Homo sapiens: one gene and its partner. The protein of the gene in region 2 binds, or shares a complex with, the protein of the main gene of each other region. Each region holds a gene or a part of one and is shown on either strand. Other genes may lie near its edges.

The links. The genes of interacting proteins can lie anywhere in the genome.
Region 1: the proteins of RICTOR (region 2) and MTOR are in contact, whole or in part, in a cryo-EM structure (PDB 6ZWM), measured with the Homo sapiens proteins. Residues at the interface, in NP_689969.2 of Homo sapiens: Leu204, Arg205, Gly206, Asn209, Arg245, Asp247, Val248, Glu249, Glu251, Arg252, Leu254, Thr258, Asp259, Phe260, His261, Tyr262, Arg263, His264, Ser265, Pro266, Asn306, Gly308, Ser311, Gly314, Val315, Cys317, Ile318, Pro319, Glu345, Ile347; in NP_001373429.1 of Homo sapiens: Arg1028, Asp1032, Lys1068, Leu1069, Asp1108, Asp1109, Tyr1110, Asp1150, Lys1187, Asn1196, Val1200, Gln1207, Asp1210, Val1211, Cys1214, Arg1215, Lys1218, Gly1219, Tyr1220, Thr1221, Leu1222, Ala1223, Glu1226, Glu1227, Asp1228, Leu1230, Ile1231, His1234, Arg1235, Arg1238.

What each region holds. Positions count from the first base shown.
Region 1 is NC_000001.11:11,261,146-11,264,893, forward strand, and holds the start of MTOR (serine/threonine-protein kinase mTOR), read right to left. Parts: upstream 1,407-3,748; 5' UTR 1,300-1,406; intron 1-1,299. UniProt on the Homo sapiens protein: Serine/threonine protein kinase which is a central regulator of cellular metabolism, growth and survival in response to hormones, growth factors, nutrients, energy and stress signals.
Region 2 is NC_000005.10:38,955,759-38,959,506, forward strand, and holds part of RICTOR (rapamycin-insensitive companion of mTOR), read right to left. Parts: intron 3,564-3,748; coding exon 3,437-3,563; intron 3,074-3,436; coding exon 2,909-3,073; intron 2,762-2,908; coding exon 2,685-2,761; intron 1,973-2,684; coding exon 1,894-1,972; intron 1-1,893. UniProt on the Homo sapiens protein: Component of the mechanistic target of rapamycin complex 2 (mTORC2), which transduces signals from growth factors to pathways involved in proliferation, cytoskeletal organization, lipogenesis and anabolic output.

The sequences.
Region 1 (3,748 bases), on a different chromosome or scaffold from region 2:
ACTGAACAACGCAGTTCTACAGGGGACTAGCTCTTCAAATGTAAGCTAAAAGAAAGTAATTAGTTCCTGGCCGGGTTTGGGAGGCCGAGGCGGGCGGATCACGAGGTCAGGAAATCGAGACCATCCTGGCCAACACGGTGAAATCCCGCCTCTACTAAAAATACAAAAAAAAAAAAAAATTAGCCGTATGGTGGCGGGCGCCTGTAGTCCCAGCTACTCGGGAGGCTGAGGCAGGAGAATGGCGGGAACCCGGGAGGCGGAGCTTGCAGTGAGCAGAGATCGAGCCACTGCACTCCAGCCTGGGCGACAGAGCGAAACTCCGTCTCAAAACAAAACAAAAAACACCAATTAGTTCCTGAGCTCATTCCCTCATTCCTCAATTATGCCCACACTGCCATGGGTGTAACATACACCTATCCCAAGTATGTTCAGCTTATGCTACAAAACCAATTTCTCAAAATTCTTATTTTTGAAAGAATTTGTAAGGCACAGAGGAAAAACCTGGGAATAATTGGTTTTGTAAAGCTTTCAAATACTCCACTGCCAAGAAGAAGACTGCAGAAAGAAATGTCATCCTTTAGGGGAGAAGAAACTTAAGAATCCCTGCTAAGAAAACTACTCCAGTTTGTGTGTATGTGTGTGCGTCCGAAAGGGGGGAAGGTGGCTGGCAAGGGATTTCTATTCTCAGGAAAGAACCAGTGTATCTTTATATGATCTGAGGCCCACAGGCCATCTGCTCCAGACTGAATTCAATTAAACTTAGGATATCTGAAGTCAAATATCCTAATGGTGTTGATAGGGCTTAAGGAAGTTAAGATTGGATGGGGGAAACAGGGATGGGGCTGGGGGAGAGGGAGAGAAGATGTACCCCAACGATGTAACCAAGCTCAGTTTCGGGGACTGGATCTCTGAGAGGTGTCCACAGTGGAGGACAAGGGGCTGACACGGACGCTAGTGTTCCCTGGGGCAGAGATACACAATTTTTATACGTGGCTCAAAAGAAAGGGTGGCTGTGACAGGCAAAAGACCCAAAGGGCAATACCAGAGCTGATGGGCCGGCCTTCGGGCGGACGTACCGCGGGCCGAAGGGTCCAGGGGTCTCTTGGGGGTCCCGGGGAGGTGGGCGTTGCCTCGAGGGGTGGGAGTCAAGGCCTCAGACGGTGCCCAGGTCGTGGGGCCGGCAATGTGGGGACCCCACGTCCCAGACGGGCGGCTTCCCCTGGCCCCCCCACGGGCAGGCTGGCCGTGGGTCTGGACATTACGCCGCCCTAGAGGGGTCGTGCCAGGCCCTAGACTCACCGCGCGGCTTCGGCCAAGGCCTCAGCTGCCGCCGCCAGCACCGGTACCGCCGCTTCAGGCCCCCTGCCCCACCGCCCGCCTTCCCCGCTGTCCTCTAAGCCGGGAGCGAGGGAAGGAGGGTTCCCAGCCCTGAGGACCAATCGACAGGTATAGGGAGAAGATGGACTGAAAAACAGGCCAATAGTAATGAAGAAGAGAAGCTTCAGGACCCGGCTTCTCCAGGGGGCGGGGACTGTTCAAATAGACAAACCACGCGGCCAGTGGCAGGTGAAAACAGGCTTGGGTCCACTCGGGAGAACCAATCGGTCGTGAGTTCACCTCAGTCACTTCCACTCACACATCCGGTACGGCGCTGCTAGGATTCCCTTCTGCATCCGGGCTGTGAACTCAAGGAGTCCGGTGTCTGGGTATCTCCGGATCGCAGCGAGAGCGGCTAGCAGAGGTTCGCGACCCCTCCCGGTGTAATTCTGAGAGGAGAATGTGAGCGATGCCGGTGCCCAGGAATTACTGCATCAAAAGACGTTTCGGGCTAGCGCTCTTTATGGATCCTGTGATATCTCTTTTGTTACAATTAATAAGCATTTGAAAATGTTTTTAATTAGATTCTCTAACTTTCCCAAAATTATCCAACTCAGGATCACTCCAGAGAAACCATAGCCAAGTTTTAACCAAAAGAGCTAGTCATAAATAAAAATTTTCAAAGCAACATTATTTTTTAAAAATCCTTTCAAAAAATCAATAGCTGGCCCGGCGCGGTGGCTCACGCCCATAATTCCAGCACTTTGGGAGACCGAGGCAGGCGGATCACCGTAGGTCAGGAGTCGAGACCAGCCTGGTCAACATGGTGAAATTCCCCCACCCGCACCCCCCGTCTCTACTGAAAATACAAAAATTAGCTGGGCATGGTGGCTCACGCCTGTAATCCCAGATACTCGGGAGGCTGAGGCACGAGTATCGCCTGAACCCGGGAGGTGAAGGTTGCATGCACCGAGATCGTGCCACTGCACTCTAGCCTGGGCAACAGAGCAAGCTCCGTCTCAATACATACATACACACACACACACACACACACACACACACACACACACACAACCAAAGAAAATAAATAACTGCTGGTCACGGTGGCCCACGCACTTTGGGAGGCCAAAGCAGGAGGATCGCTTGAGGCCAGGAGTTCCAGACCAGCCTGGGCAACATAGCGAGACGATGTCTCTACAGATTAAAAAAAAAAAAATCAACAGCAAAAGTGGATTTGACTACATTTTTTTTTAATCACAGTGCTATTTGTCATAGTAAACACTGAAAATTCCTAAATATTTCAAAGTAGGAGTCCAATAAAATATGATGCATTCGTTTGGGCGCGGTGGCTCACACCTGTAATCCCAGCACTTTGGGAGGCCGAGGCGGGCGGATCATGAGGTCAGGAGTTTGAGACCAGCTTGACCAACATAGTGAAACCCCGTCTTTACTAAAAATACAAAAAAAAAAAAAAAAAGGTAGGCGTGGTGGCAGGTGCCTGTAATGCCAGCTACTCAGGAGGCTGAGATAGGAAAATCCCTTGAAGCCAGCAGGCGGAGGTTGCAGTGAGCCGAGATCGCGCCACTGCGCTCCAGCTGGGGTGACAGTGCGAGACTCCATCTCAAAAAAAAAAAAAAAAAAAAAAAAAGATGCATTCATAATAAGAAAAATACATAGCCATTAATAATTATAATTTAGAGCCTAGCATGGTGGCTCATCCCTGGAATCCCAGCACTTTGGGAGGCCGAGGCAGGATTGCTTGAGGCCAGGAGTTCCAGACCAGCCTGAGCAACATAGTGAGACCCTTGTCTCTACAAAAGAAATTTAAAAATTAGCTGTGTGTGGTAGCACATGCCTGTAGTCCCAGCTACTTGGAAGGCTGAGGCACGAGAATCACTTGAGTCTATGACTTCAAGGTTGCAGTCATCTGTGATCTCCACTGCACTGCAGCCTGGGCAGCAGAGAAAGATCCTGTCTCAAATAATAATAATAACAATAAATAGTGGTAATTAGATGAATATTTGCTAAGAAGGAAAAGGTTCACAACTAGTTTAAAAATTACAAGTTGTGCAACAATGTAAGTATAATACAACCATTTACAAAAATATTTATGCATTTCTTATATGTCTCTGTTTACATGGGGGAAATGTGCACAACTAAGATGTAATTTGGGAAAGACACACTTTTTTTCTTTATACATTATCAATTACTTATGTAATAAAAACAAGTGAAGGTAGAAGAAATGAGTTTTCAGAAGGTCTAAACTGCCAAATTAAAGATAGTTGGGCTGGGTGCGGTGGCTCACACCTGTAATCCCAGCACTTTGGGAGGCCAAAGCAGGAAGATTGCATGAGCCCAGGCATTTGAGACCAGCCTGGGCAACATAGTGAGACTCCATCTCAAATAAATAAATAAATAAACAAATAAAGAT
Region 2 (3,748 bases):
TAAAATATGTCAGATACTTAGCAAAGGGTAGACAGATCAAGGTATTATGAATGCAAATGTTCTATCATATCCATAAGCTTTTGGCTCAGGTTTCAACTAGTACTATATACTAATGACCCCCATATCTGCCATTTTCCTCACAAATCTGAGCTCCAGATCCACATTTTCAAGCCATCACGTGGTTACTGCACAGACAATGCCAGTTCAACATATTGAAAATTCATTAGCCTAATCTTGAATCACTTTTTATAAATGTGATCTCTTAATAGTGATCCATTATATATTGTCATTAAATTAGAAACCTTATGAGCCAAGTTGGACCTCTTATTTACTGTATCCAATCAGCCCACAAATTCTGTCCATCTTATTTTGAAAATACCCAGAAAATGCGTCCTCATCTAATCAACCTAACTACCAGTGAAGTTCAGGCACTCATCAATTCTTGTTTCTAAACTTGTGTCAATATTTCTAGACTTTACCTTCAATGATCAAAATTCCTCCTCTTCACTGCAACCTGTCAGATTACTAAAGCACAACTCTGATCACTCTTTAAAAGCTGTTAAGGATTCCCCACTATATATACAATTGAAATCCCTTAGGATGATATAATATGGCTTACGAGGCCTTTTACAATCTAGCTTTAATTTACCATTCCAGCCTCATCTTGCCACTCCACACTTACCTTAGTTCCAACTACATTGGAATATGACTTTCTTCATAAGTCTATAATGTTCCAATGATCTATACAGCTTTATTCTGCTCCTTCTTCCGTGGATACCCTTCTTCTAATTTATTTGCCTACTTACTCCTCAAGACCATTTCAAGTATCACATCTACGGCTCCTATTCAACATTTCTTTTGATAATCCCTAAGGCAGAATCATTAATCTCTCCTCTGTGTTCCCTTATACCTTGCATGTAACTTTGTTATAGCTCTTATATTTTATGCTATTTTCAAGCACTGCACCAATATTCTAAGCAATTTTCTAATACTATGATTTGTATAATAAATTTTATTATGATGATTTAAATATCTTCTAGGAAACAAACCTATCACATCTTGTCTCAGTTCTACAATTCATCAAATACTAAAAGACTTCATGCCTTAAGTTGTATGCTTGGAAGTTTTAGTCCATTTAAGGAGTATCTCTTATGAAATATGGTTCAATATAGACACTATAAAAGAATGTGTAACTATGTTAACAAAAAAGAGAAAACAGGATAACTGATCTGAAATGATGAAAAATCTAAAAATCATTTATATCGGTAAAGATCATTTTGACCATGGGTTTCCAAGATGCTTCGATGACTTATAATACTTCAAACAAAATAATGAAGCCACAGCAATCACCAGCTAAAGAAAAGCTAGAAAAGTTGTTTCATATCTTCAAACTACTCCCTTCTTAGCAGGTTTCCCTATGACAGCAAGAAGTTCATTCTCAGATTTAGGTAAAGTAGTATCCTAAAGTAAAGTTTAACTAAATGATTATATCTCCTTGGGATTTCAATCTCCCTTCATTTAAAAAAATTATTTTGGTTTTAGCTTAAAGGGCTCATGCAAAGTTGTAGGCCATATTAAGGGACCGAAGAATGAAAGAAATGATAAACAGGGCCAAAAATTAGATTATAAAATCAAATGAGTTGAGAGTCAAATTTCAATAGAACGAATACAGTCAACAGTTCAGAATGAAAGAAATAACTGTAGTTTAAAAAAATGTATAACTATAAATACTAGCAATTATGCAGAATTTAGGATTCAACTTGATATTGATGTTTAAATATTTAACCTTATTAATTTCAAAACACTGATATAAAAAAACCATCCTCTAAATTCACAAATCAATTTCAGAAGATAAAAACACACAAATTCAACTTTATTCAAATAAGAAGTTACCCTGTGCCACTTTTCCAATTGTTTTGCTACATAACCTCTTTCATTCAGATAGGAAAATCCTTTTGGAATGGAGAGAAATCTGCAAATTAAAACAAGCAATAGTTTAACATTGAGTCTGGCAAAAACGTATCTTAAGAAGCTAAAATAACTAAAATTTAAAAAAGTATAAGGAGCTAAAAGACTTTAGGAATAGTTCGTTCCTAAAACTAAAAGGTCAACTATAATTTATTATAACTTCAATTACAAATAAATTTTCACAATCTTTGCAACAACACGCGAACCCAATCACAATAAAGAAAATGTCAGCCAGGCACGGGGGCTCACGCCTGTAATTCCAGCACTGTGGGAGGCCAAGGTGAGTGGATCACCTGGTCAAGAGTTCAAGACCAGCCTGGCCAACATGGTGAAACTCCAACTCTACTAAAAATACAAAAAATTAGCTGGGCGTGGTGGTGTGCGCCTTTAGTCCCAGCTACTTGGGAGGCTGAGGCAGGAGAATCACTTGAACTTGGGAGGCAGTGGTTGCATCGAGCCAACATTGGACCATTGCACTCTGGCCTGGATGACAAAGCGAGGCCGTCTCAATAAAAAAAAGGAAAATGTCATGAAAAGTATGAACAGACCAAAAAAATTAAAAAAAAAGAAAAACCCAAAATAATGAAAAGACAATGTTTCAATATTAAAAGGTAAACTCTTCAGCGTACTTCCCATTTGGATTTGAATCTATCTTTAATATACACTGCCAAAGAACACAACAAAAAAACATAACAGAAAATTTACTTAAAATTTACCTCAGCAGGAGAAGCAAACCCTTGTCTCCAAGGTGGGATAACGCTGGTTTCATCTGAATGAGAGCATGAAGATTGGCCTAAAAGAGATTATCATTATTTTTTTATAATTGCACAAAAATAGCAAAATTTTTAGTTCCAAAATGCCTATTATATACTTTTACATAATTGTCAAATGAGTATTTCAAAAAAATTTAAGTATTAAATTATAAAAAATGAACCTTTACCTTGTCTTCACATGCTTCATCGAGGATATCAAGAGCTTCAGAGGAAATCGTTTTGTTTTTATCATGTAGCTGGGTCACTAACAACTCAATTCCCCAATTATTAAAGAATTCAACATTAGCTCTCAATAATACCCTTAAATGTTTTGTTGCATAGAGTCTGCAGGCCTATAAGGATAAATGAATACATTAAAAAAAAAAAAAACTTCAGCATAAATAGCCTATTTGATTTTATTTTGGGATAGTCCTGCTACTTGAAAAGGGAAGAATGCCTGGAATTGGTGGTCTAGCCCTTGATATGAATACTTTTTTGGTTCTTGTGAAATAGAATACTTCCCTTTCTATCTAGCAGCTTCTTCCCCCGATACAAAAATCTGAGTACTATATGCAGTTCCTTGGAGAAACTAAAATTTTAAAGTAAACTCAATTTCCATATCATATTCTTAGAACTTAATTTTACTTAGCCCAAAATTCATAAAGTAGTGAATTAATTGGTTATAAATATAGTTTTACTGGCTATGTTATACTCACATCAGTAGCTGCAGTTAAAATTTTGGAAAGGATGACTCTAGCCAATCCATCTCTGCTATAGTCCAAGCTAGAAACAGTAAGTTTTAGCAAGTGATCTTGGTTTTTCAAGGAGCAAAGATTAAGGAGACTTAAAAGAAAAAAAAAATAAGAATGGTTAAAAGAAATTACTATATTGATACATTAATTAAACAAATATTTTTTCCAGCTTTACTGAAGTATAAATGACAAATAAAAATTGTATTATTCAAAGTGTATAACTTGATTTGATATACACATACATTGTGAAGATTACCACAATCAATGAACACATCA